2 separate regions of the Homo sapiens genome follow, and region 2 is linked to region 1. Evidence: fine-mapped QTL for protein levels in blood plasma. A gene starts in region 1. The other region holds a variant in brackets. All regions are shown on one strand. Distances are between the middles of the regions.

Region 1 (15,770 bases):
TTATAGGAAAGGCACCCTTATAGACTATAACATAATTCATAAAAAAACAAAGTCATTATATGACAACTTACAGCCAAAGGGAAGTAAAGGAGTTAAAGCTGGAAAATTTAATGGCAGCAAAAGACAGTTTGATAATTTTAGAAAAAGTTTTGGTTTTAAAAATGTCAGGAAACAGAAGTAGCTTCTGCCAACCTAGAAGCAGCAGATGAATTCCCAGGTGCCATTAAGAAAATCATTGAGAAGAAAGGATATCTGTCTGAATGCACTTTAAATGCAGACAAAAATGTCCTAAATAAAAGAAACTGACACAAAGGACATTTATTAGTAAGGAAGACAAGCAAGTACCATGATTTAAGTCAGGAAGGGGTATGCTAACTCTACCATTTAGTGTAAATGCAGTCGGGTTTATGATCAGGACTGCCCTTATCTATAAAGTTGGTAACTCCTGGGCCTTGAAAGGAAAAGAGAAACACCTGTTGCCAGTCTCTTGGTTGTATGACAAGAGAACCTCAGTTGAACAATGAGAACTCTATTTCTGGATTGGTTCCATGGATGCTTTGTCCCTGAAGCTAGGAAGTACCTTGCCAGTAAGGAACTTCCTATTACTGTACTTTTGATATTGGACAATGCCCCAGCCATGCAAAACCGCATGAGTTCAACAGTGAAGAGGTAGAAGTCATCTTCTTTCCCCCAAATACAACTCAATTTGGCCTCTAGATCAGGGGTTATAAGGATCTTTAAGGCTCATTACACACATTACCATATGGAAAAGATTGTCAATGCTCTGGAAGAGAATCCAGATAGAGAACCCCTGAAAGAAAGAGCATCATAAAAGTCTGGAAGAATTACACTACTGAAGATGTCATTTGTTGTTGTATAAATAGCTGTGAATGCCATCGATCATAAAACAATAAATTCCTGCTGCAGAGAACTGTCCAGATGTGCATGCCTTCACAGGATTTACAATGGAGCCAATCAAGGAAGAGTGTGGATATGGCAAAAGAAAAAAAAAAGGTAAGGAGTGAAAGGTTTAAAGATATGAATTTTGCAGAAATTCAAGAGGTAATAGACACCACAGCAGAGAAATTAATAGAAGACTTGATGGAGAAGAGGGCTTCTGAACCAGTGCCAAATTATGAGGAAGAAGATAGAGAAGAAGCAGTGCCAGAAAACAAATTTACATTAGACAATCTGGCAGAAGGGTTCTGATTATTCAAGACTGCTTTTGACTTCTTTTATGACATGGACCCTTCTATGATATGGGCAGAGAAACTAAAGCAAATGGGGAAAGAAAGATTGGTACTGTGTAGAAACATTTTTAGAGAAATGAAAAAAGAAAACATCAGAGATTACAATGCATTTCCATAAAGTTACACAAAGTTTGCCTGCCTTTCCTGCTTCCACTTCCACTTCTTCCACCTCTTTTGCCTCTGCCACTCCTGAGACAACAAGAATAACTCCTCCTTTTTTCAAAATGAAGATGACAAGGATAAAGCCTTTATGATGATCCACTTTCACTTAGTAAATATATTTCCTCCTTTTATGATTTTATTAGTTACATTTTCTTTCTTCTAGCTTACTCTATTGTAAGAATATGGTCTATAACATATAATAAAAAAAGTGTGTTAATCATCTATTTGTGTTATTGGTAAGGCTTTCAGTTCACAACATGGTATTAGTAGTTAAGTCTTGGGAGAGTCAAGTTATATGTAGAATTTTGACTGTGCAGAGAGTCAGCAGCCCTAACCCCCACTTTTTTAAGGCTCAACTTTATATGCATACAATGACATATTATACAGTCTAAAAAAGGAAGAAAATCCTGCCACTGACAGCAACAAGGATGGACCTGGAGGACATTATGTGGAGTGAAATAACTAGACACAGAAAGACAAATACTCCATCCTCTCATTTATGTGTGGAATTTAAAACAGTCAAACAAGTGGAAACAGAGAGTAAAATGGTGGTGGTTGCTAGGGGATTGCAGGGAAGAGAAAATAAAGAGGTTTTGGTCAAAGGCAACAAAGTTTCAGTTATGCAAAATGAATACATTCTGGAGACCTATTGTTGAAAAATTAGGTTAATTGAAGCATTTAAAAATTAGTAAGAAAACGATAGTAAAATGTTAATGATAGCATCTAGGTAGAGGTTTTGTGTGAAAAAAATATTTGAAAATAAGCAGATGTCAATGATTTTTATAAATTGTAAGTAACCCAAATTTACATAAATAGTTGAATGGATAAATTATGGCATATTTACAGAATGCAATACTATTTAGAAAAGGTGCTATCTACTGTATCCTCAAATGGATAAATCTCAGAACCAAAATGTTAAACAAAAGGAACCAGACATAAAAATATACATGTATTTCCCATATGATTCCATTTATATAGTATAAAACTACTGATTGATCTATGTTATTAGAAGTCAAGATAATGTTTAACACTAGGGTAGATGTAGGCAGTAACTTGGTAGGGGGATTTTGGGGTGCTGGTATATTCCTTCTTTGTTCTGGGTTGTGGATTCATGGATGTCTTAGACTTGTGAGAATTCTTAACATATGTACACTTTTCTGTTAATACATTTAATAAAAAATACAAAATTGAAATAATAATAGCTTCTGCCTTGCAGAATTATTTTGTACTCTATTTTATTTTATTTTTATTTCCATAGGCTATTGGGGGAACAGGCTGTATTTGGTTACATGAGTAAGTTCTTTAGCAGTGATCTGTGAGATTTTGGTGCACCCATCACCCAACCAGTATACGCTGAACCAAATTTGTAGTGTTTTATCCCTCAGCCCCCTTCCACCTTTCTCCAGAATCCCCAAAATCCATTGTATCATTCTTATGCCTTTGCATCCTCATAGCTTAGCTCCCAATTATGAGTGAGAACATATGATATTTGGCTTTCCATTTCTGAGTTACTTCACTTAGAATAATTGTCTCCAGTTCCATTCATGTTGCTGTGAATGCCATTAACTCATTCCTTTTTATGGCTGAGTAGTATTCCATCCTGTATATATATCACAATTTTTTATCCACTCATTGATTGATGTTGATGGACATTTGGGCTGGTTCCATATTTTTGCAATTGTGAATTGTGATGTTATTAACATCACCTGCTTGTGCAAGTATCTTTTTTGTATAATGACTTATTTTCCTCTGGGTAGATAACCAGTAATGGGATTGCTGGATCAAATGGTAGTTCTACTTTTAGTTCTTTAAGGAATCTCCACACTGTTTTCCACAGTAGTTGTACTAGTTTACATTCCCACCAACAGTATAGAAGTGTTCCCTTTTCACTGAATCCACACCAACATCTATTATTATTATTTTTTTATTATGGCCATTGCAGGAGTAAGGTGGTATTGCATTGTGGTTTAGATTTGGATTTCCTGATCATGAGTGATGTTGAACATTTTTTCACACATTTGTTGGCCATTTGTATATCTTCTTTTGAGAATTGTCTGTTTATGTCCTTAGACTACTTTTGGATGGGATTGTTTTTTTTTTTTATTGCTTATTTGTTTAAGTTCTTTGTAGATTCTAGACATTAGTCCTTTGACAAATGCATAGATTGTGAAGACTTTCTCCCTGTTTATTCTGCTGACTGTTCCTTTTGCCATGCAGAAGCTCTTTAGTTTAATTAAGTCCCATCTATTAATCTTTGTTTTTGTTGCATTTGCTTTTGGGTTCTTGGTCATGAAGTCTTTGCCTAAGCCAATGTCTAAAAGGGTTTTTCCAATGTTATCTTCTAGAATTTTTATAGTTTCATGTCTTAGATTTAAGTCCTTGATCCATCTTGAGTTGATTTTTTTTGTGTAAGGTGAGAGATGAGTATCCAATTTCATTCTCCTACATATGGCTTGACAATTATCCCAGCACCATTTGTTGAATAGGGTGTCCTTTCCCACTTTATGTTTTTGTTTGACTTGTTGAAGATCAGTTGGCTGTAACTATTTGGGTTTATTTCTGGGTTCTCCATTCTGTTCCATTGGTCTATGTGCCTATTTTTATACCAGTACCATGATGTTTTGGTGCCTATGGCCTTATAGTATAGTGTGAAGTCAGGTAACATGATGCCTCCAAATGATTTGTTCTTTTTGCTTAGTCTTGCTTTGGGTGTGTGGGCTCTCTTTTTGGTTTCATATACACTTTAGTATTGTTTTTTCTAGTTCTGTGAAGAATGATGATGGTATTTTGATAGGAATTGCATTGAATTTGTAAACTGCTTTTGGCAGTATGGTCATTTTCACAATATTGATTCCACTCATCGATGAGCATGGGATGTGTTTCCATTTGTGTCATCTATGATTTCTTTCAGCTGTGTTTTGTAGTTCTCTTTGTAGAGGCCTTTCACCTTTTTGGTTAGGTATATTCCTAAGTATTTTTTGTATTTTTTTTTTCTTGCAGCTATTGTAAAAGGAGTTGAGTTCTTGATTTGATCCTCAGCTTGGTTGCTGTTGGTGTATAGGAGAGCTACTGACTTGTGTACATTAATTTTGTGTACAGAAACTTTGCTGAATTCTTTCATCAGTTCCAGGAGCTTTGTGGAGGAGTCCTTAGGGTTTTCTAGATATACAATCATATCATCAGTAAACAGTGAAAGTTTGACTTCCTCTTTACCAATTTGGTTTCCCTTTATTTCTTTCTCTTGTCTGATTTTTCTAGCTAGGAATTCCAGCACTATGTTGAAGAGAACTGGTGAGAGTGGGCATCCTTATCTTGTTCCAGTTTTCAGAGGGAATGCTTTCGACTTTTCCCCATTCAGTATTATGTTTGTTGTGGATTCGTCATAGATGGCTTTTACTACATTGAGGTATGTCCCTCGTATGCCAATTTCACTAAGCGTTTTAATCATAAAGGGATGCTGGATTTTGTCAAATGATTTTACTGTGTTTACTGAGATGATCATGTGATTTTGTTTTTAATTCTGTTTATGTGGTGTATCGCATTTACTGACTTGGGTATGTATGTTAAACAATCCCTGCAGTATGAAACCCACTTGATCATTGTGGATTATCTTTTTGATATGTTATTGGATTCAGTTAGCTAGTATTTTGTTAAGGATTTTTATTTCTGTGTTCACCAGGGATATTGGCCTGTAGTTTTCTTTTTTTTTGTCATGTCCTTTCCTGGTTTTGGTGTTAGGGTGATACTGGCTTCATAGAATGAATTAGGGAGGATTCCCTCTTTCTCTGTCTTGTGAAATGGTGTCAATAGGAGTGGCACCAATTTTTCTTTGAGTGTCTGGTATAATTCTGTTGTGAATCCCTGGCCCTGGAATTGTTGTTGGTAATTTTTTTGTTACCACTTCAATCTCACTGCTTGTTATTGGTCTGTTCAGGGTATCTAATTCTTCCTGATTTAAGCTAGGAGGGTTGTATTTTCCAGGAATTTATTCATCTCTTCTAGGTTTTCTTTTTCTTTTACTTTTTCTTTTTTTTTTTTTGAGATGGAGTCTTGCTCTGTTGCCCAGGCTGGAGTGCAGTGGCGGGATCTTGGCTCACTGCAAGCTCTGCCTCCCAGGTTCACGCCATTCTCCTTCCTCAGCCTCCCTAGTAGCTGGGAGCTGTTACAGGTGCCCACCACCATGCCCGGCTAATTTTTTTTTTTGTATTTTTAGTAGAGACGGGGTTTCACTGTGTTAGCCAGGATGGTCTCAATCTCCTGACCTCGTGATCCTCCCGCCTCGGCCTCCCAAAGTGCTGGGATTACAGGTGTAAGCCACCGCTCCCGGCCCATCTCTTCTAGGTTTTCTAGTTTATGCATGTAATGGTGTTCATAGTAGATTTGACTGATCTTTTTCTGTGGTGTCAGTTGTATTATCTCCCGTTTCATTTCTAATTGAACTTATTTGGATTTTATTCCTTCTTTTCTTGGTTATTCTTGGTTAATATAATGGTCTATCAATTTTATTTATCTTTTCAAAGAACCAGCTTCTTGTTTCATTCATATTTAAAACAATTTTTTTTGTTTCAATTTCATTTAGTTCTGCTCTGATCTTGGTTATTTCCTTTCTTCTGCTGGGCTTAGGTTTGGTTTGTTCTTATTTCTCTAGTTCCTTGAGGTGTGACCTTAAATTATCTGTTGGTGCTCTTTCAGACTTTTTGATGTAGGCCTTTAGGACAATGAACTTTCCTCTTAGCACCACCTTTTGCTGTATCCCAGAGGTTTTGATAGGTTATGTCACTATTGTCATTCAGTTCAAATAATTTTTTAATTTCCATCTTTCATTGTTGGCCCAATGATCATTCAGGAGCAGGTTATTTAATTTCCATGTATTTGCATGGTTTTGAAGATTCCTTTTGGAGTTAATTTTCACCTTATTCCACTGTGGTCTGAGAGAGTGTTTGACATAATTTTTTTTTTTAATTTATTGAGGCTCATTTTGTGGCCTATCATATGGTCTATCTTGTAGAAAGTTCCATGTGCTGATGAATAGAATGTATATTCTGTGGTTGTTGGGTAGAATCTTCTGTATATATCTGCTAAGTCCATTTGTCCCAGGGTATAGTTTAAATCCATTTTGTTGTTGTTGTTGTTGTTGACTTTCTGTCTTGGTGACATATCTAGTGCAGTGGTATATTGAAGTCCCCCACTAGTATTGTGTTGCTGTCTGTCTCATTTCTTAGGTCTAGTAGTAATTGTTTTATAAATTTGGGAGTTCCAGTGTTAGGTACATGTATAATTAAGATTGTGATATTTTCCTGTTGGACAAGGCCTTTTATCATTATATAATGTCCTTCTTTGTCTTTCTTAACTGCTGTTGCTTTGAAGTTTGTTTTGTCTGATATAAGAATAGCTACTCCTGCTCACTTTTGGTGTCCATTTGCATGGGGTGTCTTTTTTCACCCCTTTACCTTAAGTTTATGTGAGTCCATATGTGTTAGGTGAGTCTCTTAAAGGCAGCAGATAGTTGGTTGGTGAATTCTTACCCATTCTGCAATTCTGTATCTTTTAAGTGGAACATTTAGGCCATTTACATTCAACATTAGTATTGAAATGTGAGGTACCATTCCATTCATCATGCTATTTGTTGCCTGAATACCTTGATTTTATTTATTTAAGTATTTATTTATTTACTGTATTTTTGTTTTATGGGTCCTGTGAGGTTCATGCTTTAATGAAGCTCTGTTTTGTTGTGTTTCCAGGATTTGTTTCAAGATTTAGAGCTCTTTTCAGCAGTTCTTGTAGTGCTGGCTTGGTAGTGGCAAATTCTCTCAGCATTTGTTTGTCTAAAAAAGACTGTATCTTTCCTTCATTTATGAAGCCTAGCTTTTCTGGATACAAAATTCTTAGCTGATAATTATTTTTTTTAAGGAGGCTGAAGATAGGTCCCCAATCCCTTCTAGCTTATAGGATTTCTGCTTAGAAATCTGCTGTGAATCTGATAGGTTTTCTTTTGTATGTTACCTGGTGCTTTTGCCTCACAGCTCTTAAGATTCTTTCGTCTTGACTTCAGATAAACTGATGACTATGTGCCTAGGTGAAGATTTATTTATTTATTTATTTTGAGATGGTGTCTCGCTCTGCTGCCAGGCTGGAGTGCAGTGGCGCGATCTCAGCTCACTGCAACCTCTGCCTCCTGGCTTCAAGTGATTCTCTTGCCTCAGCCTCCTGAGTAGCTAGGACTACAGGCATGGCACCACGCCCAGCTAATTTTTGTATTTTTAGTAAAGATGGGGTTTCACCATGTTGGCCAAGACGGTCTTGATCTCTTGACCTCGTGATCTGCCCACCTCATCCTCCCAAAGTGTTGAGATTACAGGCATAAGCCACCACACTTAGCTGCAATAATCTTTTTTTTTTTTTTTTGAGATGGAGTCTTGCTCTGTCGCCAGGCTGGAGTGCAGTGGCACGATCTCAACTCACTGCAACCTCCACCTCTTGGGTTCAAGCAATTGCCGTGCATCAGCCTCCCACGTAGTTGGGGTTACAGGCATATGCCACCATGCCCAGCTAAATTTTTTTTTTTTTTTTGTATTTTAGTAGAGACAGGGTTTCACCATTTTGGCCAAGATGGTCTTGATTTCCTGACCTCATGATCCACCTCCCTCGGCCTCCCAAAGTGCTGGGATTACAGGCATGAGCCACTGTGCCCGGCCGTAATGATATTTTTATGATGATTTCCCAAGTGTTCTTTGAGCTTCTTGTGTATGGATGGCTAGATTTCTAGCAAGGCCAGGGAAGTTTTTTTTTTTCAATTATTTCCCTAAATATGTTTTCCAAATTTTCAGATTTTTCTTCTTCCTCAGGAACACCAATTATTCTTAGGTTTAGTCATTTAACATAATCCCAAACTTCTTGGAGGCTTTATTCACTTAAATTTTTTTCTTTGTCTTTTTTGGATTGGATTACTTCGAAAACCTTGTCTTCAAGCTCTGAAGTTCTTTCTTCTGCTTGTTTTATTATATTGCTGAGACTTTCCAGTACATTTTGCTTTTCTCTAAGTGTGTTCTTTATTTCTTGAAGTTGTGACTGTTTTTTATTTATGCTATCTATTTCACTGAAGATTTCTCCGCTCATATCTTGTGTCATTTTTTTGATATCCTTAAGTTGGATTTCACCTCTCTCTGGTGCCTCCTTGATTAGCTTAATAATCAAACTTCTGAATTCTTTTTCTGGCAGTTCAGGAATTTCTTCTTGGTTTGGATCCATTGCTGATGAGCTAGTGTGATTTTTGGGTGGTGTTAAAGAACCTTGTTTTGTCATAATACCAAAATTGTTTTTCTAGTTCCTTCTCTTTTGGGTAGGCTATGTCAGAGGGGAGATCTGGGGCTCAAGGCTGCTGTTCAGATTCTTTTGTCCCACGGGGTGCTCCCTTGATGTAGTATTCTCCCCCTTTTCCTAGGGATGTGACTTCCTGAGAGCCAAACTGTAGTGATTATTATTACTTTTCTGGATCTAGCCACCAGAAGGGCTACCAGGCTCTGGGCTGGTACTGGGGGTTGTCTGCATAGAGTCCTGTGATGTAAACTGTCTTCAGTTCTCTCAGTCATGGATACCAGCACCTGTTCCAGTAGAGGTGGCAGGGGAGTGAAAGGAACTCTGTGAGGGTCCTTAGTTGTAGTTGTTTGATGCACTAGTTTGGTGCTGGTTGGCCTCCTGCTGAGAGGTGAAGCCAGCTGGACTTCCTGGGTCGAATGGGGACTTGGAGAACTTTTCTGTCTAGCTAAAGGATTGTAAACACACCAATCAGCGCTCTGTGTCTAGCTAAAGGTTTGTAAATGCACCAATCAGCACTTTGTAAAAACAGACCAACCAGCACTCTGTAAAATGTGCCAATCAGCGGGATGTGGGCGGAGCCAAATAAGGGAATAAAAGCTGGCCACCCGAGCCAGCCGCAGCAACCTGGTCTGGTCCCCTTCCAGGCTGTGGAAACTTTGTTCTTTCGCTCTTTGCAATAAATCTTGCTGCTGCTCTCTTTTTGGGTCTGCACTACCTTTATGAGCTGTAACACTCACCGCGAAGGTCTGTGGCTTCACTCCTGAAGTCAGCAAGACCTCGAACCCACCAGGAGGAAGAAACAACTCCGGACGCACCATCTTTTAGAGCTGTAACACTCACTGTGAAGGTCTGCGGCTTCACTCCTGAAGTCAGCAAGACCAGGAACCCACCAGAAGGAAGAAACTCTGGACACATCTGAACATCAGAGGAACAAACTCCGGACACACCATCTTTAAAAACTGTAATGCTCACCGCAAGCGTCCGCAGCTTCATTCTTGAAGTCAGCAAGACCAAGAACCCATTGGAAGGAACCAATTCCAGACACACTGCCATGAGGTAGTGCTTTCATGAGAGCATCAGCTGTGGTATATAGGGGAGGATCAGGTGGTGGGTGGGACACTAGAACTTCCAAGAGAATATGACCTTTGTCTTCAGCTACCAGGGTGGGTAGGGAAGGACCATCAGGTGGGGGCAGGGTTAGGCATGTCTGAGCTCAGAGTCTTCTTGGGTGGGGCTTGTTGTGGCTCTGTGGGGAATGGGGGTGTGATTCCCAGGTTAATGGAGTTACCTTCCCAGGAGGATTATGGCTGCCTCTTCTGTGTCATGCAGGTTGTCAGGGAAGTGGGGGAAAGCTGGCAGTTACAGACCTCACCCAGCTCTCACACAACCCAACAAGCAAATCTCACTTCTACTGTGTTCCCCCAAAAAGCACCGAATTTGTTTCCAGGCAGTAGGGGAGCAGGATTGAGAACTTGCCCCAGGCTACTAGCCTCCCAGCTGAGAATGCAAGCCAGACTTTTGTGCCTCCCTACCTGTTAAGTCTGCACACCAGATTCACGCCCTTTCCTGAGTTCTGGACAGGAAAGTTTGTGTTCGGTTGGAATTGTTACTAAGTTCAGCTGGAGGTTTCCTTCTCCCTGTGGTCTTTTCCCAGTTCCTCCGGCAGCCCCTGTGAGACAAGTCAGAAATGGCTTCTCTGGGGACCCACAGAGACGATGGGGCTTTACCCTTTGCTTCCTCTACCCCTGTATTTCGCTCAGCTCTCTAAATTGTCTGAGCTCCAGGTAAGGTCAAATCCTTCTCCTGTGATCTAGACCTTCAGGTTCCCCAAGGGTGTGTGTTCAGGGGTGGACAATACCCCTTTCACACTTTTCACAGTTTGGGCATTCACAGTATGTGGGCTATTTTCTGGGTCATGCAGGAGCAATATACTTTCTTCAGAGGGTCTGTGGATTATCTTGGCTTTCCTGTTATATCCTTGCAGCAGTTCTTGGAGCAAAAGTTCACAATGCGAGTCTCCACATCCTGCTCTGTCCATCCAAGTGGGAGCTGCAAGTTAGTCCTGCCTCCTATCCACCATTTTTTCCTATTTTGTATTTTAAATTAAAACTCATTAGAATGTAAACTCCATGAGGGCAATAATTTTAATCCAGTTTTTTCACTGCTAAATACCTCAAAACTGTTACATGTGCTGCCATTATCATGGACGTTCTAAACATTTCTCATGAATGAATGTTGATATAGCACAGTGCTGATCTCACCACCTGCCACAAAGTAAAAACTCTCTAAATGTCAAACACTACTATTATAAGTAATACTATTCTATCATTGAGACAACTATGGTTCTGTATCTCTTTAAGGAGTGCAGTCTAGGCAACAACATATTTCAACATCAGGTATCTGTTATCTCATGTTCCTAAGTTCATCTTTTTACCTGATCAATATTAGTAAAGATCTATGGCCTCAAGTGAACTTTACTCTATGAATTTACAATTGGGAACTTAGGTTGAAAATTTACCTAGTATTATTTATTCTGCTGCTATAATTTATTATTTATTCTGCTGCTATTGTTGCCCTAATCAGTTATCATGCTCTTACTGGACTCTGACATGGTAAGTAATGTCAATTAATATAGTTGTGTTATTTTAACATTATTTCAAAATATTTTAAGTGAAATATAAGACTCGTTACAAAAGGACTTAGACAGAGGTTATAAATTATTAACTTTTTCCTCAAGAGAAGTATTGTGTACTTAATGACAAGTTCCTAGTGCTTAGAATTGTTAAAATCTTTGTGAAGCACACCACTGAAGATGAGGTTGAAAAACCTGACTTTTATCATCATATTGATAATCTCAGGAGAACTCTATGCAGAAGGTAAAATTAATTCTTAATATTCTTTATTCTCTAAAACATACAAATGGAGATTCTAATATTTATACAACTCAAGTTTTAATATACTCTTCTATTTTCATTATCAATTTTATAACATATTTTATAAATATAACTTTTTATAATATTTAGACCTTTTCCTTTGAGCAAAATTAGTAAAGTGTTCTTACAGTAGCATAAGTCAGAAAAGCAAAACAAAACAAAAACCCTTGTATCTCTAGGGGGCATAGGAGACCAGGATCTAAATACTTCGAAAAGGTTTTCAGGTTAACAATATGTCCATTTCGAAGTCACATGTTAACTTTAATTCTAAATTTATGCTAGAATCCATTCCTAATACTGACAAAACTTGTACAATTTTAATTCTGTTCATAAGGTGAGAGTTTAATGTGGGAAATTTGAAAAGGAAATAGCCATAAATATTTTTTACTTTTGAGACTTTGATTTTTATCACAATGAATTATTCATTTGTTGGAGACATTAAGTAGTGATTAGTAGGTGAACCATATAATTGCTTGTACAAACAGGGACACTTAGAGAGTAAAAGAGGGGCTCTATTAATAACTGTTTGGACAACACATGTAAATCAGGACTTTCCAAACAAACCAATACCTATGGACTCCCTATTAGAAAGCTTTATAGTCAGATTGCCCAATGTGTAAGATTAGTGTGCGAGTGGAAGCTAGGCAGTGTACATGGGTATGTTGTTCAGGAACATTATCAATATTATCAGGCCATAGGATGAAGAATCCAGGGAGGACACTTAGCATTAGCAAGAGTGAACATACAAAGAAGGAAGCTACAGCAATACAGCTTTTCTAAAATAAACATTTTTGGGAATTTGTTGAAATTAAATACATAAGTTTTAACTGTGTTTTAGTTGAATAGTTAACTATAAATTTTCTACCAAAACATCTATAATTAAAATTATAAAAGTGAAAGACACAGAATTAATCTTATTTTATACTTTTAATTCTATAATAGGATGATTTTTGCATGAATTTCTTTTGATTTTATTTTTCTGTCTAAATAGGGAAATACCAGCAGATATAATTGTCTGTTATCTATACCATAAAGACATTGCAATATTCTAGTTAATTTTCTAATTATTATAAGGTTATAATGCTATTTTACACAACAAAAAAAAAAGTAAGCTGCTTGAAGACCAAGACAATGATTTTATTTTTGCATGCTTCTCTCAACTCCCATTGTGCACTTCAGGGACAAGAATTGAATTAATTGTGTTTCTCATTTCATGGTATGCAAGTATTATTGGCCTATGAAAGGTCTCACTCTTGCTTTACTTACACATTTTATCCCCTTATTCCTAATCTTGAAGTCCATTTCCCCTGGGACCTACTACAATGTTTTAACATGTTACTCTAGCTCTCTCAACCACAAATAGCTCTGGAATGAATATTGTAATATAACCAACTTATCTTTCTGTAAGAATGTCATCAGTCTGTATTCACTCACAGATAGCATTATTGAGTCTATTCTTGTACTTGATTTCTGTAATGAGAGATTACTTTTGCAGAATGGCAGTTTTGAAGTATATCATCTCTGAGAGAGGATGTAAATTGTTGCTCCTCATCATTCTCACCAACACCTCATATTGTCCATTTTTGTACTGGTTGCTATATGGTTATTCATAAAGTGATATCCCATTTTTATTTATTTACCATTCTCTGATCAGTAGTAAGTGTGTCCATCGCTTCATGTACTTTTTTTAATATGTTCAGACATCTGTGATTTCCTGGTTTATATGTGATTAGTATATTCCTCACATTTCTCATTAATTTTTTGTCAGGAATTCATATTCTCCAAGGCATTCCAGCTACCTTAACAAATAATGTGCCTATCCTGGTGGTGGAGGGAGATGTCCCAGGACAGAGAGTCTTTAAAGCCACAACCTAGGATTGTTGTGCAGAGAATACTTTGCTGCCCCTCCCTGACAAGCAACTGTGCCCCTCAGGGAAATTTCTTGTGTATTCACCATTGCACTGCTATTTTGGAAGACTCTTTTTATTGTAAATTCCTTTGGTGCTTGGGTGTGAAAAAATGGTGAGAATAATTCTCAAGGAATGGGGACTATCCAGCCCATGTTTTTCTGTCTGCTCCATCAGATAGTGGAAGTTTTGTTGCTCATCATTCCACATCCATTTCCTTCAAACCTAGGCTAGCACTACTAGTATTTTATGTCTCATAGTAGCATTAAGGTATACAGTGATCAACCAAGGCATTGAAGCCGTAGTAATCACACTGGATCTAGGCCTTCTTCCATCCATGACTGCCCATGTTTCTTCCCACCACAGCTCCTAGGATTGTTCGAGCATTTCTTTCTTTTAAGTGTTTTTATGACTTTAAGATCTTCAACATAAAGATATATTTTTAAAATATATGTTTTATTTGGAGTATAACATATCCAGAAAAATGCAAAAATCACAGGATACACTTATATAGTTTTTACAAAATTTTACACCATCCAGATCAAGATATAGAACAGTGATAGTACCCCAGAAATATGATCCTTCTAAGGCACTAAACCCCAAAGGTAACCATTCTGACTTCTATTATCATGGATTAGTTTGTTTTCTTTTAAAAAGTTATGCAAATGTATACATTAATTCATATGTGATTGGCTTCTTTCACTCAATATTATGTTTATGAGATTCACCATTTGTTCATTTCTGTTGTTGGATAATATTCCATTGTATGCATAGTCTAAAATGTGTTTATCTTTTCTATTATTTATGGGCATTTAGATTGTTCCCAGTTTGGGACTATATGAATACTGCCACTATAAGCATTTTTTTCCATGTCTTTTGGTATACAAATATGTGCTTTTTTTATTGGGTAATATGGTTTGTACATGTTTTACCCCAATATATATTGCAAAGGTGTTCTCTCATAGAGTTTGGACTGATTTATACTTTCAGTTGTAGAAATATGCGAGTTCCAGTTTCTTCACTTCTTCACAATCATTGAGATAGCTTGTCTTTTTCATTTCAGCAGTTCTATTGGATATGCAGTAGTATCTCATGGTGGTTTAAATTTTCATTTCCCTGATGACTAGTAATGCTAAGTACCAGGTCTCTAACCATTTAAATATCCTATTTTGCCAAGTTCTTGCCAAGTATTGCTTTGTTTTACTTGGTTGTCTGTTTTTTCTTTTAATGCTATTTATTTCAAAATTTTTTATGAGTTAGCATATGTTAAGGAGAAACTTTACCTATTCCTGAACTGTACTGTCCAATACAGTGGCCATCAGCCACATATAGCTATTGGAGACAGTACTTAAAATGTCACTAGTTCAAGATCAGATATTCTGTAAGTATAAATATGTAGTGGATTTTAAAGAGTTAGAAAAAAAAAGAATGTAAAATATTTTCAATATATTGGGTTAAATAAAAACCTATTATTAAAACTAACTTCAATTGTTCCTTAGTATTTTTATGAATGTGACTATTAGAAATTTTTAAATTACATAAGTGACTTACAATACATATCTATTAGGAAGTGCAGGCAGGGTGGAGTGGTTCAAGTCTTGTAATCCTAGTGCTTTGGGAGGCCAAAGCAGAAGGATCCTTTGAGTCCAGGAGTTTGAGACCAGCGTGAGCAACAGAGTGAGACCCCTCATCTCTACAAAAAATAAAACAAAAATTAGCCAGATGTGGTGGCATGTGCCTGCAGTCCTAGCTACAGGAGAGGAGGCTTGCTTAAGCCCAGGAGCTCCTGGTGGCAGTGAGCTATATTTCAGCACTGCACTGAAGCTTGGATAACTGAGGAAGACTCTGTGTCTAGGAAGAAAAAAAAAAGTACTGTTCTACGAAGTTATGCAAAGCTTCCCTGAAAAAGTGGTCTGCTAAATTTTATCATGACTGTTGGATGTTTAAAGTCATTTGCAGATCAATTATGATAAAAGGACTGCTTGAGTTGTCACAAAAGTACCTTAAAAATTTAAGTAAGAAAAATAAGTACTAGTTGAAGTGTCTCTAAAAACTTTTAGTTTGTATTGTCACCTGATTACAAATTTATGTTTTTAGATTTGTTTTTCCATTTTCAGCTTGACATTTACTCATTTCAGAGAAACCCTGTGGTTTTCCTCATGTGGAAAATGGAAGAATTGCCCAATATTACTATACTTTTA
Region 2 (15,770 bases), 17 kb after region 1:
CCATTTTCAAAAAAATTATGCAGATATTTCCAAAATGAAATCGCCAATAATAACATTATACTTTTGGCTTAATTTTACAATTTAGTAAAAGACAAGCTTAGTTTCATCATTAAGTTAAATAATTTTTTTTCCCATAGAAAAATGCACTAAGCCTGACCTGAGTAATGGTTACATCTCTGATGTAAAGTTATTGTATAAAATTCAAGAGAACATGCGTTATGGTTGCGCTTCAGGGTACAAAACCACTGGAGGGAAGGATGAAGAAGTGGTTCAATGTCTCTCTGATGGATGGTCTTCTCAACCAACCTGTAGGAAAGAACATGGTATAAGAATCATTTCCTAAAACTGAAGATAAGTGCTTATCAAGCTTATATTGAATATATTGAAGCTTATATTGATATCTATTATTTAATAGAATTTATTTTTCATTATGTCTACAATGCAGGAAGTTGATATTACATTGCTTTTCTCAAGTACTAGGTGATTCCTTAATCCAAATGTTCTCAATCCCTACAACCCACCTACGCCAATAGTTCCTACTTTGCATCAATAAAAGGAATTGGAATGGAATAAAATGAAAGAAGCTTTTTCTTTATATGTCACTATTTCCTTTATTACAGAAGAATTTAAGATCATGTACATTATTTTATATTGTGAACCAATGTCAGATATACTTAAAAATAGTTCAATAATTTAAATATATGTATACTTTGTTAGTAAGTTGTTTAAATTGTAAAAATGCATAGACAGCACATACTTTCACAATTGCTACTGCACAAGCCTTTAGTTGAATTTTGGCCTTTGGTCAAGCACTTGTAGACTAGAATTTTAAAAACAGAAAACTGGTAGAGTTAGGTCACAAGGTGTATGAAGAAGAGAATAGAGGCAAAGAAAAATTGGGGCTATTTTTCAATTTTGCTAAGAGTTGATTTTACCATGTATTCTTAAGATTTGTAAAACCATATTTTGAGATTTTTTATAATCTAGGTTATTAAAAAAGTTTATAAAATAAATAATTTTTATAATTTTAGAAACATGTTTGGCTCCTGAATTATATAATGGAAATTATTCCACAACACAGAAAACATTCAAAGTGAAGGACAAAGTACAATACGAATGTGCTACTGGCTACTACACAGCTGGAGGAAAGAAGACAGAGGAGGTAGAATGTCTCACATACGGATGGTCTCTCACACCAAAATGTACCAGTAGGTTCTCATTTGGAATAAAATCTACTCTCACTCTGAAAGCTTTTTCTCATAGAGAAGTGTATATAAGTTGTCATGCTCATTATGTTTCACCTTTTCATGCATTTTTGCCTTTATTTTTAATTATGTTGATAGCAGTCTTTGATAATTAAAGCTCTCAAGTAGAATAAATTCATTTTAGCTCACAGAATTAAATTAGAATAAGCCTAATGATATTTAACAAATATATAAAATGAATTCATAAGCTTTTTGGCAAATTTAATTTCTATTCTAGTTATGTCATGTAAATAGTGCATTTTGTTGTAGCAGAAAAAATAAACATTTGTTTGTAATTTTATTCATTCTTTTATTTGCAGAATTAAAGTGCTCTTCTTTAAGATTAATTGAAAATGGTTATTTTCATCCTGTAAAGCAAACCTATGAAGAAGGAGATGTCGTTCAGTTTTTCTGTCATGAAAATTATTATCTAAGTGGATCTGATTTAATTCAATGCTATAACTTTGGTTGGTACCCAGAATCTCCTGTATGCGAAGGTAAATTTTTAAATTTAATACTCGCAAAATGCCATGTCTTTATCAGCTTTAATCTCTATTAGCTCTGACAAAATTCCTGTGGTCATATCTATTTTTTTTCCTGAGTCCTATTTTTAAAATAAATATTATCTTTTAAATCAGTGCTATTTTCAGCAATCTTTAATATATCCCACCTGAATAAATCTTGTTTTGTCTTAGTTTGTAAATGACTATATCTTTTAAATTTATTATTTTAAAATATCTATTATACATTTTAAATCCCTTATTATAACGAATAACTTTTCTTATTGGGAATTATTAGGACTAATTACCCCAATCTGGCAGCTTTGCAAGGATATTTTCTCTTAATTTGCCACATATTTCCAGATGTAAAAATTAATCTCCAAAATAGTGAGGTAGAAAGCAGAGAAAGCAGGAAAAGCAGAAGAATAATGCCCAGAAGTGAAAATGGGAAAAGAGGTCATCTTGTAAAAGCTGCCCAAAAATGTAATATCTATGGTCACATTTCTATTACTGGAAGTGTCCAAACAGGTAATGCAATTACCTGTCAGAAGACATCCATAGTTATTTAAACAAACCTACAATTTAATATGAGGAGGGTCCTATACTAGCAGAAGATATGAAAACAGTAATTGCAGATATGAAAAAAATAATTGCTATAATGTGACAAATGGTACAATCAACTCAGGTACAAAGTGCAGGAATAAACATTAGAGATTCTGATTGGTATGCTGTGGAATAGCATTCACAGAAGTGATGGACAATATTTAAGTTGGGTCTTAAGAGATAAGTAGCAGTTTGAGAATTGGGAGGATAGGGTGAGGCAAAGGGTTTGATAGTCATTTTTTATTTTCTGTAATATGGGATATAAGGTCTATTGACAGGCAGGTGAAAGACATGAAGGTAGAACTTGGAGGAAAGTGGTGAAGATTTGAAACAGGTGCTAGGGGAAACAAATGAGGGCTCTGACCATGGGTATGCAGTGGGATTGCCAGAACTATCATAATTCCCTAAATGCACTGTACAGTAACTTTAAAGATTTTATGATTTTTCATTTGTGCTCGACATCCTTGGTATAGTAGTAGAGAAGTAGATTTTTTAAGCAAATTTTTTTAAAGTCTATTATTCCTTATTTATTTTTTATTTTTTTGAGATGGAGTCCTGCTGTGTCGCCTAAGCTAGAGTGCAGTGGCACGATCTCAGCTCACTGCAACCTCCACCTCCCAGGTTCAAGTGATTCTCCTGCCTCAGCCTCCTGAGTAGCTGGGACTACAGGTGTCGGCCACCATGCCCAGCTAATTTTTTTGTGTTTTTAGTAGAGACAGGGTTTTGCCACGTTGGTCAGGCTGGTCTTGAACTCCTGACCTCAGGTGATCAGCCTGCCTCAGCCTCTCAAAGTGCTACTTCAAAAATAAATGGCAGACCTACTTAAGGCCTTTTATACCCTTCTCCTCTTCCAAATTAGCCAGCATGACAACATGCCTGTTTTTTCCGGTAAACAGTCATTAGGCATACAATGGCTAATATAATTCAGCCCACAACAATATAATTCAGTTGTGGGCTGAATTATATCTCTCTTACTCCTCCCAAAATATAGCCACATTCTAATACTGAGAACCATTAAACGTTACCTTACACGGTACAAGACACTTTGAGGTTAACAATCTTAAGGTAGGAATATTATCTGGAACTATCTATCCAGACTCTAAATATAATCACAAATGCTTTTATAAAAGGGAGGCAGAGGGAGATTGACTGCAGAAGAGGAAGCAGGAGATGTGACAATGGAAGCCACAGGTTGAAATGTTTTGAGGAAGGGGTTGTGAGCCAAGGAATACAGGTGATTTCAAGAAGCTAGAAAAGGCAAAGTAGCTGATTCTCCTCCAAAGTCTCCAGCAGGAATGTGGCTCTCCTGATATCTCGATTTTAGTCCAGTGAAACTGACTCTGGACTTCTGGCCTCTAGGACTGTAGGAGGATAAATCTGTGCTGTTTTAAGCCACTAAATTGTAATTCATCAAAGCAGCAATAGGAAAGTAGTGTGGTCAGTATTTTAGAGCAGGAGACTTTAATTTAGACAGACGTGGGTTCAAGAACAGATCTGCTACATGCTATTAATTTATTTACTTCATAAGTTTTAGTTTGTCTATAACATGGGAGAAATAATAGTTCCTACTTAATAAAGTTATTTTAGGACTAAAAGAGGTAATGAATGTAAAATGCCTGCTGTGTTAGTATTCTATTGGTGCGTAACAATGTCACCACAAACTCAGCAGGTTAAAACAACACAAAGAAATTATTTCCCATTGGGTGTAGGTTGGGGGTCTGGGTGCGGCTTAACCGACTCCTTGCATCGATGGCTATCAAAGCTGCAATCAAGATGTTAGCTGGACTGCAGTCTCATCTGAGGCTTGACTGGGCAAGACTTCTTCCAAACTCACTGTAGTTATTGGCAGCATTCAGTGCTTTGCAGACTGCTGAACTGAGAGCCTCTGTTTCTTGTGGCTGTTAACTGAAGGCAGCCCTCTGCCCCTTGCCTTGCAGCCGTTCTGCTTTGGAAGCTCATGATGTAGCCTCTTGTTTCTTCAAAACCAGCAAGGATAGAGAGTCTCTTGGCAAGAATGGCGTTAAAAACTGATGTTACATAATTATGTGTGCATAATCACGTACTAATCCATCACCTTTGCTGTATTTTGTGGGCTAGAAGCAAGTCACAGGTCCTACTCATGGAAAGGGGTATCACACAAGGAAGTTAACATCAGGAGGTGAGGATCAAAGGAATGCTCCTAGAATCAGTCTGCCATTCTCTCTATGATGCTTGACATGATGAATATTTTAATTTAATCTTTATTATTTTTTGTAATTATATGACTAAAGGTGCTGATTAATTTTTTCCATAAGGAAGAAGAAACAGATGTCCTCCTCCACCTCTGCCCATAAACTCCAAAATTCAAACACATTCAACAACTTATCGTCATGGAGAAATAGTTCATATAGAATGTGAACTTAATTTTGAGATCCATGGGTCAGCAGAAATACGTTGTGAAGATGGAAAATGGACAGAACCTCCAAAATGCATTGGTTAGTAACACCTTGAAGAAGCTTTGCTAAAATGAAATCTGCATGTGTAGCTAAATGGTCAGTTCTCTTTCAACTGTACCTTTTCAGAAGGACAGGAGAAGGTAGCCTGTGAGGAACCACCCTTCA[T/C]TGAAAATGGTGCAGCAAATTTACACTCTAAGATTTATTACAATGGGGATAAAGTGACATATGCATGTAAAAGCGGCTACCTTCTCCATGGATCGAATGAGATAACTTGTAATCGTGGAAAATGGACACTTCCTCCTGAGTGTGTTGGTATGTATGCTACATTTACCATCAGTAGCTAAACTTATGGTGTAAAATTTTCCATTCTGTTACTTTAATCTGAATATTCCTAGGAAAAGACCACTGCTTAGGCAAATTAGAAACACATTGCTACAGCACCTACTCTTCTGCTTTGCATGTGTGCATGTGTGTGTGCCTGTATGTGTAGCTATCTGTAGAATTTAAGTCAATGTAAAGAATTCTTAAACAAAAGTTTTTTTTGAACGCTAGTGCTAAGCACGGTTATCTGATCTGTGTCATGCCATTACCTGTAAGTTCTAAATGACAACACATAAATGACGATGTGCTTCATTAGATAAGTAAATAAGGGCATGGTGGATTGAGTGACGGGCCATGAGCATTATCTACTTCTTCTCCCCATATGTCCTGCAAAGTTAGGGTAGTGCATTCTGTTCTTGACCTTGGGTAAGTCCTGCTGATATTTTGCATCTGGCCATTCTGAACCTTATGCCCTTCTGAGACATGTCCCTGGTCTTTCATTTTACTGAAAGGCACCACCAGGCTACACTATCATTCCTGGAGACTACTCTTCCTGTCATCTATCTCATTTCTTAATCAGATCAGAGCAACATCTCCACACACATGTTTATCTAGGATATTTATTAAATAAGACAAAAGCAATGAAGGATGCTAAAGAAATAGATAAAGTGAGAGAAAGATACCAAAAAGAGGAAAAAAATTGATATTTCCTTCATGGGTCTATTGAGACCTGAGATGAAGAGGAATGAAAAAGAAGAAAATAAAAGTGGGGTAATGCCAAAGAGCAATTTTAGAATTGACCATAATCTTTAGGTTGAAGAACAGTTTCTCATTCTATAGGTTTAAGAAATGTGTATATCATAATTCCTTCACAATTGAGAAAAGAGAAAAATACGTATAGTTGTTTTTAGGTAACATATTTGCTGTCAACTCTTGCTTAGCAAATTTTAAAAATATTTGAGCTGAAAAAATTTTTCATATTTGTAATGAATTTATAAAACAATTGTCCTAAATTATATAATACAAATATCGAGACACTATAGTATGAGTTACTATAGTATATTGTTATGAGCTCATATTAATTTTAAAACAACCTCTTTTCTTAGAAAATAATGAGAATTGTAAGCATCCTCCTGTTGTAATGAATGGGGCTGTTGCAGACGGGATATTGGCAAGCTATGCAACAGGATCCTCAGTGGAATATAGATGCAATGAATATTACTTACTGAGGGGATCAAAAATATCTCGTTGCGAACAAGGAAAATGGTCATCCCCACCTGTTTGCTTGGGTAAGAAAGAGAACACATGGAATGTCTACGTTTGTACTTTTATGTGATTTTCTTACAGTGTTTTATATCATGAAAATGATGATTTTGTACAAATCTTTTTTCACAAGTGTTTTCTCTCTCATTTCTTTAAGTAGAAAGTCCCTAAAATATTAGTGTATTTTTTCTATTGTGGTAAAATATACATAACATAAAATTTACCACCGTAGCTATTTTTAAGTGTACAATTCAGTGGCATTAAGTATATTAACATTTTTGTGACCAATTAGCTTTTGGGTTGTCTTTCTCCTAGCTGAAATTCCCTCCCTGGTATACAGCCCTCAATATCTCTGCTTGTATTGCCCTCAGAATGTCATTTCAAGAAGAATAATTAGTCCTATTCTTTCCTTGGTAGAGTATATTGCTAATATATTATAGAGTATATTATATAGAGTATATTGCTAAATTTTACCACCGCATCCTCATCTGAATGGACACGTTTGTTACATCTTGTTGATTATATAAAAGTGTTTGCTAATGACTTAGATAATAAATGGTCTTCTAAATGTTTTACACACACAAGCACACACTCCACAAAATGCTATGATATGATGCAGAGGTATATATCTTAGATTTTTTCACTCAAAATATATTGTAAACATGGTTTGTCATACTTCTACAATATATACTTTAATGGCTGCATAGTATTCCATAATGCAGATATACATATGTAATTTAACCAGTTTATTGATGGATGTTTAGTGTTCAACATTTTTATATTCCAAACAGTACACTTTCAAGTAAATCTTTGTACATGTTAAACATATTTATTTTTGTTAAAAATAATTATCATGAGATCAGGAATTTTAATTCTTTTTCTATTAATTGGCAAATTGTCTATCAGAAAGTTTGTTCTGCTTTGTTAACCCTACCATAAGTGAATTAAAGTAGTAATCATCCTAATCTTTGTTAACTTTGAATATTTTAATCTTGACATTTTTTGTTAAGCAGGCAAGCACAATTATTTTAATTTGATTTATTTAAGAATTAATTAATTTGGAATTTTTTAACTTTCTAGTAGCCACAGGTTTTTTTACATGAATTAATTATTCATAGTTTAGCCATTTTTTCATACTTATAAATCTATATATAAATTATTTTATCCAATTGAGAATCATGTTTATTGCAATTATTTTTAATTTATTTTTATTTATAGTGTTTTTAAGTATATATAAGTGTATGTTTTAAGTCTTGAGCTCTTTCAACCTTTTGTTAGTAGTTTCCACCTTTCAAGTAATTCTTAGGAGTCGATTCCCATTCAAATTCAGATACAGATACATATTCACATAGAATTTTGCTATTGGTCTCATATTTTTATAAATGTTTTTGATATTAAGTTTTTGATGCTTTGGTTGATATTGCATTGAGTGGAGATATAGTAATCTCTAAGGACAAAGACTAGATTAAAATATTTATGGCAAAGCTGGTAATGAAACAAGCTCATAAGGAAATAACAACATTTAAGGAAATACATCATTCTATATCTGGAACAACTGCCTCAAGAGAGTTAGGTTTGGTCCTAATGAATCAAAGCAAATACCAAATGAAGATTAATCATTGTTATCAGGGCAAGAGAAAGGGGCTTTGTATATCTTGGTAACTATTGAAACTGGAAAGGCTATCAGTACAAATTCACAACAGTATGATAAAGCATAGAATTTTCTCTGTAGGAATTATTATTCCAGACATTAAGAGTCTCTCTAACCTCTCCATACTCTCTTCCCTGCTCTAATCACTCCAGTCTTTCTGGTCTCCTTACTCTTCCACAAACAAGCCAAGAATGCTCTCACTTCAGGGCCTTTGCACTGGTTGTTCCCTTTGCTTGGGACACTCTTTCATAAGAAAATGACATGGTTCACTCAGTCTCCTTCAAGCTTTTGTGCAAAGTCCCCTTCAAGCTTTTTTACTTCTTATTTAGGCCTACCCTAATCACCTTACTGAAAAGTGCAACTTCTCTTCACCTAGCTCTTTTGTTACCCCCTCCTGCTCCAGTACTCTTTTTTTCATCTAATTTATCTTATGCTGTAGTTTAAAGATGGCCACTGTGTTAGTCTGTTCTCATGCTGCTAATAAAGACATACCTGAGACTGGGTAATTTATAAAGGAAAGAGATTTAATGCACTCACAGTTCCACATGGCTGGGGAGGCCTCACAATCATGGTAGAAGACAAAGGAGAAGCATGGAACGTCTTACAAGGTGGCAAGCAAGAGAGCATGTGCAGGGAAACTCCCCTTTATAAAACCATCAGATCTCATGAGACTTATTCACTGTAATGAGAACAGCATGGGAAAGACCCACCCCAGGATTCAATTACCTCCAACCAGGTTCCTCCCATGACATATGGGAATTATGGGAGCTACAATTCAAGATGAGATTTGGGTAGGCACACAGCCAAACCATATCAGCCACAAATTATACAATTCATGTCTTTATTATATTTATTATGTATTGTAGGTGTTTCTCCCAGTTAGAAGGTAAGCTCCATGGGAGCAGGAGTCTTGGTTTTATTCATTAGCAGGTTTTCTATTATTTTCTACATGGTAGTTAAAGGTTTTTATTTTATAGAAAGAAAATTATTATTAATCTAACTGATTGATGCCCTTAAATAGTATTTTTGATGTTTTAAATTAAGTGGTTTTAGTTTATGACAATAATGTATAGATTCATTTGATAGTAATAAAGTATATATTTTCTTATATATATATGTGTGTGAGAGAAGCCTTAATTATGATTTCAATTATAAAATATTGCTTTTGAAACTTGTCATAATTTTTGTTTTAAAAAATATCACTTTTATATTTGTCAGACAAGTAAAGAATTTAAAAGAGCATTTTGTTTTACAGAACCATGTACTGTTAATGTGGATTACATGAACAGAAATAACATAGAAATGAAGTGGAAATATGAAGGGAAAGTCTTACATGGAGATTTAATAGATTTTGTATGTAAACAGGGATATGACTTATCTCCATTAACCCCATTGTCTGAATTATCTGTGCAGTGCAACAGAGGAGAAGTGAAATATCCTTTATGTACTAGAAAAGGTAAAATAATAATGTTCTCTGCAAGTATCTTTACTTGACCAATATCTGCTACCTCGGTTGAAAATTTATTTATAGTTTGTTGCTATTTTTCTTATTATTATTCTTTTTAATTTTGTTTTATTTTATTTTATTTTACTTTGAGTTCTGAGACACAAGTGCAGAATGTGCAGGTTTGTTACATGGGTATACGTGTGCCATGGTGGTTTGCAATTCCAGTAATGGAATTGCTGCGTCGAATTTCATTTCTGGTTCTAGGTCCTTGAGGAATCACCACACTGTCTTCCACAATGGTTGAACTAATTTACATTCCCATCAGCAGTGTAAAAGCATTCCTATTTCTCCCCAGCCTTACCAGCATCTATTGTTTCTTGGCTTTTTAGTAATTGCCATTCTGACTGGTGTGAAATGGTGTCTCATTGTGATTACACCTTATACAAAAATTAACTCAAGATGGATTAAAGATTTAAATGTAAAAACCCCAAACCATAAAAACTCTAGAAGAAAACCTAGGCAATACCATTCAGGACATAGGCATGGGCAAATACTTAATGACGAAAATGCCAAAAGCAATTGCGATGAGAGCCAAAACTGACAAATGAGATCTAATTAACCTAAAGAGCTTCTGCACAGCAAAAGAAACTATCATCAGAGTGAACAGGAAACTTACAGAATGGGAGAAAATTTTTGCAATCTGCCCATGTGACAAAGGTCTAATATCCAGAATCTACATGGAACTTAACACAAATTTACAAGAAAAAAACGAACAACACCATCAAAAAGTAGGCAAAGGATATAAACAGTCACTTCTCAAAAGAAGACATTTATGTGGCCAACAAACATATGAGGAAAAAGCTCAACATCGCTGATCTTTAGAGAAAATTTATACCTATGACCCCAATTCACCACCATCATATTCTAATCTATAAAGTTGAGAGGAGTGATCCAACTTCCAAACTTCAATCAGCATATATACCTATATAGGATGGCCATGCTGACATCTTTTAATTCCAATAAGTCAATTTTATGAAGGGAAAAAATCAAGAGGTTTTATAAATGTTGCCAGACTATCAGAGAATTGATCACCTTCTTGTGAGCACTCAACAACAAACACTGTAAAGCATTGCTCTACTTAGGGCTTTCTGGGGACCCATTGTCTCAGTACTCACTGGCTATAGGGACTATTACTTTTAATAAGGAAGAAAAGGAAAATAATATATACAGAAATCATGGCTTCTAGAAAAATCCCATATACACTTAGGGAGAAATAAAATCATGATTGTTAATACTCTCATAGTTTTAAATATGCATGTAAACACTATAACGTGGGATTCTAATTATAAAAATACATTGTATGGTATAATATTATTGCAAAAACATCTTCAATATTTTAAAAATATTTGAGAACTGCCTAAAAAATGGCTTTATGGCTAGGTGCAGTGGCTCACGCCTGTAATCCCAGCACTTTGGGAGGCCAAGGTGGGCAGATTTCTTGAGCCCAGGAATTCAAGACCAACCTGAGCAACATAGTGAGACCCTGTCTCTACAAAAGAAAAATGCACCTGTAGTCCCAACTAGTTGGGAGGCTAAGACAGGAGGATCACTTGAGCCTGGGAGGCAGAGGTTGCAGTGAGTCATGATCATGCCACCATACTCCAGCCTGGGTGACAGAGGGAGACTCTGTCTCTGTAGCACTTATAAAGTACTGGATGTTCATTATAGCAATTCATTGTATACTTTAAAACTTATTTTTGCAGAATCTAAAGGAATGTGCACATCTCCTCCTCTTATTAAACATGGAGTCATTATTAGTTCAACAGTAGACACCTATGAAAATGGCTCTTCAGTAGAATACAGATGTTTTGATCACCATTTCCTAGAAGGATCTAGGGAGGCCTATTGTTTAGATGGAATGTGGACTACACCACCATTGTGTTTAGGTATGTACTACTAAATATGCCTCTAACAAAGTAAAACTATATATTTTTAATTTGCTGTCATTTTTGAGTTAACATAACACTAATATAATGCTATATTTGCTACATTTGTGTTATTTTATTCATGTGCTTATTTTATCACTGCTTTCTATTCTTTCCTCTAGATCATAAATACCTATAGTTCAGTTTGTTGTAATACATATTTTTTTAAAGACAAACCACACATCAGGTTGGTATGGGCTATAAGTTGAATAAGCCATAGTGGTGTGAGTAAACTTTAACAATTATCATTCATTGTGATTGGTACTATAATAGAAAACATTAGGGAAACATGTATAATAGAAAACAATGCGGAAATAAAGAAATGGACAACTCAATATGGAAAGATGAAGCAAGTTAATGTTTTATTAGCAAGGCATCCTAGTAAGAGTAACAACATTTACTAAGGCCCTCAGAGGCATGAAATAGCACATCTGTAAATAATAAGAAAATATTTTTTATTTCCAATTCTGACTTTTATTTACTTCTCTTATCTTCTTTCACTGGCTAGGACTTCAGTACAATGTTGAATGGAAGAGGTAGTGGATATCTTTATTTGCTTCCCATTCTCATAAGTAAAACCTTTGATAATTCACCTCTATGTGTTGTTATAAATATTTTTTTAAAAATCAAGTTAAAGGTATAAAAACCTTTCTTTCTATTTTGCCGAAAGTATTTTTAAAGAATCTTCAATCTGTGTTTAATTTTTAGCAATATCTGTTGAAATAATTACATAATTATTACTTTTGTTTTTTCCCCTGCAAATTTAATGAATTATATTGCTTCTTTTGAATGTTAAAGCATGATTCTATTCCCATAAGAAATTCCACAAGGTTGTGATAAATTATGCATATTATATGTTATATTTTTATTTATCAATATTTTACTCATCTATTTTCATGAGAAAGACTGGTTGGTTATTTTCCTTTCTGGTTTGATATCAAGTCTGTGCTGACCTCATCCCATGAATGGGAAGTGTTCCGTCTTTTCTGGTTCTCTGGATTGATGCTATTTCTTCCTTTATAATTTTAAGAGTTAACCAGAGAAGCCATCTGGGACTTGAGTTTTTCCGTGAAAAGACAAATTGACAGCTTCGATTTGTTTAACAAATAATGGTAATTATTTCTTCTTCTGTCAGTTTTGGTAGGGAGTGGTTTCTTGATGGTTCATTACAACTACATTGTCAAATCTACTAACATAAAGTAGTTATGACATCTTCCTATCCTCTTTTTGATGTTTTTATTGATGTATCTTTTGTTATTACTTCTATTAATATGTATCTGTCTTGACATGCCTTGCTAAGGGTCTATACATTTTATTAGTGTTTTCAAAAAACCAACATTTGCATTTGTTGATTCATCAAATTTTGCTTTCTATTTTATTAATTATGCTATTATCTTTATTATTTCCTTTCTTCTATGTTCTTGGATTTCTTTTGTTACTCTTTTTCTGGCTTGTTTAGATGAATACATAGATTACTAATTTTCAGCATTTATATTTTTTCTAATACATGAATTTAAAAATAGAAATTTCTCTCTGAGCACAACTTTAACTTCATCCAAACCATTTTTATATCTTGGATTTTTACTGTCATTCAGCTCAAAAATTTTATAGTATTCATTTTGATATATTCTCTGTGCTCTGAATCATTTAGAAGTTTCTTTTTAAAGTTCTGAATATTTAGGGGATTTTCTAGTTTTCTTTTGGTTACTGATTTCTAGTTTAATTCAATTAAGACATACTTTGAATTATATCTGCACTTTAAAATTTGTTGATATTTGCTTTATAACAAGCATGTATTTGCTTTAGGTAAACGTTCTTTTCATACTTGAAAAAAGTTAACTTTGTCATTGTTGGGTTCACTGTTTTATATATGTGAATTGGATTGAGTTTTGTTTTTGATGTTTAAGTTAATCCAAAGCTGTACTGATTTGTGTGTGTTTGTTTTCTATCAATCACGGAGAGAAGCATGTTAAAGTCTCACTTGGCATTTTAAAACATTACTAATTTTAGTTCTGTCCATTTTTGCTTTTGTATTTTGATACTATTTCATTAGGTACACACACAAATTGAGACACTAAATCTTCGTATCTTGGTGTATTGGCATTGTCTAATTTTAAAAGACCTCCTTCATATATAGTAATGCTTTGCCTTTTTTTTTGCCTTGAGGTCTCCTTTAGCTGCACCAAGGGGCTTTTGACAAGCATTCATGTAGTACACATTTTTCCATCCCTTAACTTTCAACCTTCTGGGTTTTTACTTTTAGTGTGCCTCTCTTATAAGCAATATATACCTTATTTTAAAATATACTTATGCAGTTTATAATTTTTTCCCTTGTAATGGAATAGTCTATTTACATATTCATGTAATTACTAATATATTTCTGTTTATACCTACCAACCCTACCAACTTTCTATACTAGGTGTATGTTACTATACTCCATGTATATCCCATTGGTCATCTCCCTCTTTCTCTCTCTCTCTCCATATAGGTGTGTGTGTATATATATATACACATATATATATATAATATTTTAAGTTCTAGGGTACATATGCACAATGTGCAGGTTTGTTACATAGGTATACATGTGCCATGTTGGTTTGCTGCACCCATCAACTCTTCATTTACATTAGGTATTTCTCCTAAAGCTATCCCTCCCCCAGACCCCCACAGACAGGCCCTGGTGTTTGATATTCCCTGCCCTGTGTCCATGTGTTCTCATTCTTCAACACTCACCTATGAGTGAGAACATGCAGTGTTTGGTTTTCTGTCCTTGTAATAGTTTGCTTACAATGATGGCTTCCAGCTTCATCCATGTCCCTGCAAAGGGCATGAACTCATCCTTTTTAATGGCTGCATAGTATTCCATGGTGTGTATGTGCCACATTTTCTTAATCCAGTCTATCATTGATAGACATTTGGGTTGGTTCCAAGTTTTGCTATTGTGAATAGTTCTGCAAAAAACATATCTGTGCATTTGTCTTTATAGCAGAATGACTTATAATCCTTTGGGTATATACCCAGTAATGAGATCACTAGGTCAAATGGTATTTCTAGTTCTAGATCCTTGAGGAGTCGCCACACTGTCTTCCACAATGATTGAACTAGTTCATACTCCCACCAACAGTGTAAAAGCGCTCCTATTTCTCCACATCCTTTCCAGCATCTGCTGTTTCCTGACATTTTAATGATCGCCATTGTAACTGGAGTGAGATGGTCTCTCATTGTGGTTCTGATGACCAGTGATGATGAGCATTTTTTCATATGTCTGTTGGCTGCATAAATGTCTTCTTTTGAGAAGTGTCTGTTCGTATCCTTTGCCCACTTTTTGATGGGGTTGTTTTTTTCTCGTAAACTTTTTAAGCTCTTTGTAGATTCTGGATGGTAGCTCTTTGTCAGATGGATAGATTGCAAAAATTTTCTCCCATTCTGTAGGTTGCCTGTTCACTCTGATGATCGTTTCTTTTGCTGTGCAGAAGCTCTTTAGTTCAATTAAATTCCATTTGTCTATTTTGGCTTTTGTTGCCATTACTTTTGGTGTTTTAGTCATGAAGTACTTGCCAATGCCTATGTCCTGAATGATATTGCCTAGGTTTTCTTCTAGGGTTTGTATGGTGTTAGGTCTTACATTTAAATTTTTAATGCATCTTGAGTTAATTTTTGTATAAGGTATAAGGAAGTGATCCAGTTTCAGCTTTCTACATATGGCTAGCCAGTTTTCCCAACACCATTTATGAAATAGGAAATCATTTCCCATTTCTTGTTTTTGTCAGGTTTGTCAAACATCAGATGGTTGTATGTGTGTGCATTATTTCTGAGGCCTCTGTTCTGTTCCATTGGTCTATATATCTGTTTTGGTACCAGTATCATGCTGTTTTGGTTACTGTAGCCTTGTATTATAGTTTGAAGTCAGGTAGCCTGATGCCTCCAGCTTTGTTCTTTTTGCTTAGGATTGTCTTGGCAATGCGGGCTCTTTTTTGGTTCCATATGAATTTTAAAGTAGTTTTGTCCAATTCTGTGAAGAAAGTCAATGGTAGTTTGATGGGGATGGCATTGAATCTATAAATTACCTTAGGCAGCATGGCCATTTTCACGATATTGATTCTTCCTATCCATGAGCATGGAATGTTCTTCCATTTGTTTGTGTCATCTTTTATTTCGTTGGGCAGTGGTTAGTAGTTCTTGAAGAGGTCCTTCACATCCCTTGTAAGTTGGATTCCTAGGTATTTTATTCTCTTTGAAGTAATTGTGAATGGGGGTTCACTCATAATTTGGCTCTCTGTTTGTCTATTATTGATGTATAGGAATGCTTGTGATTTTTGCC

Which allele goes with the higher level. Alleles are on the strand shown, and positions count from the first base shown. The strength of an association depends on the size of the effect and on how common the allele is.
With allele T in place of C in region 2, the plasma level of the protein whose gene starts at base 11,505 in region 1 is higher (strong association).

What was found. PIP is the chance, under the fine-mapping model, that this variant and not a neighbour inherited with it causes the effect. The UK Biobank Pharma Proteomics Project read protein levels with antibody pairs (Olink). The fine-mapping took linkage between variants from a reference panel, not from the people measured, so its PIPs are less certain.
Region 2: its variant is fine-mapped to the plasma level of the F13B protein (UK Biobank, PIP above 0.99). The variant lies in the coding sequence of F13B. If it changes the protein, the assay may bind it differently, which can mimic a change of level.

What each region holds. Positions count from the first base shown.
Region 1 is chr1:197,062,995-197,078,764 of GRCh38, reverse strand. F13B (coagulation factor XIII B chain) reads left to right here and starts at 11,505. Exons shown (of 12, transcript NM_001994.3): 1 at 11,505-11,605; 2 at 15,708-15,770. The coding sequence starts at 11,542. RefSeq lists an enhancer at 9,198-10,397.
Region 2 is chr1:197,046,337-197,062,106 of GRCh38, reverse strand. F13B (coagulation factor XIII B chain) reads left to right here. Exons shown (of 12, transcript NM_001994.3): 3 at 138-323; 4 at 1,032-1,208; 5 at 1,565-1,741; 6 at 4,642-4,821; 7 at 4,909-5,094; 8 at 6,210-6,392; 9 at 9,273-9,473; 10 at 11,228-11,410. Among named protein-coding and RNA genes, the nearest start is that of F13B, 13 kb to the left of the region's middle. The variant T/C (reference allele first, on the strand shown) is at 4,948.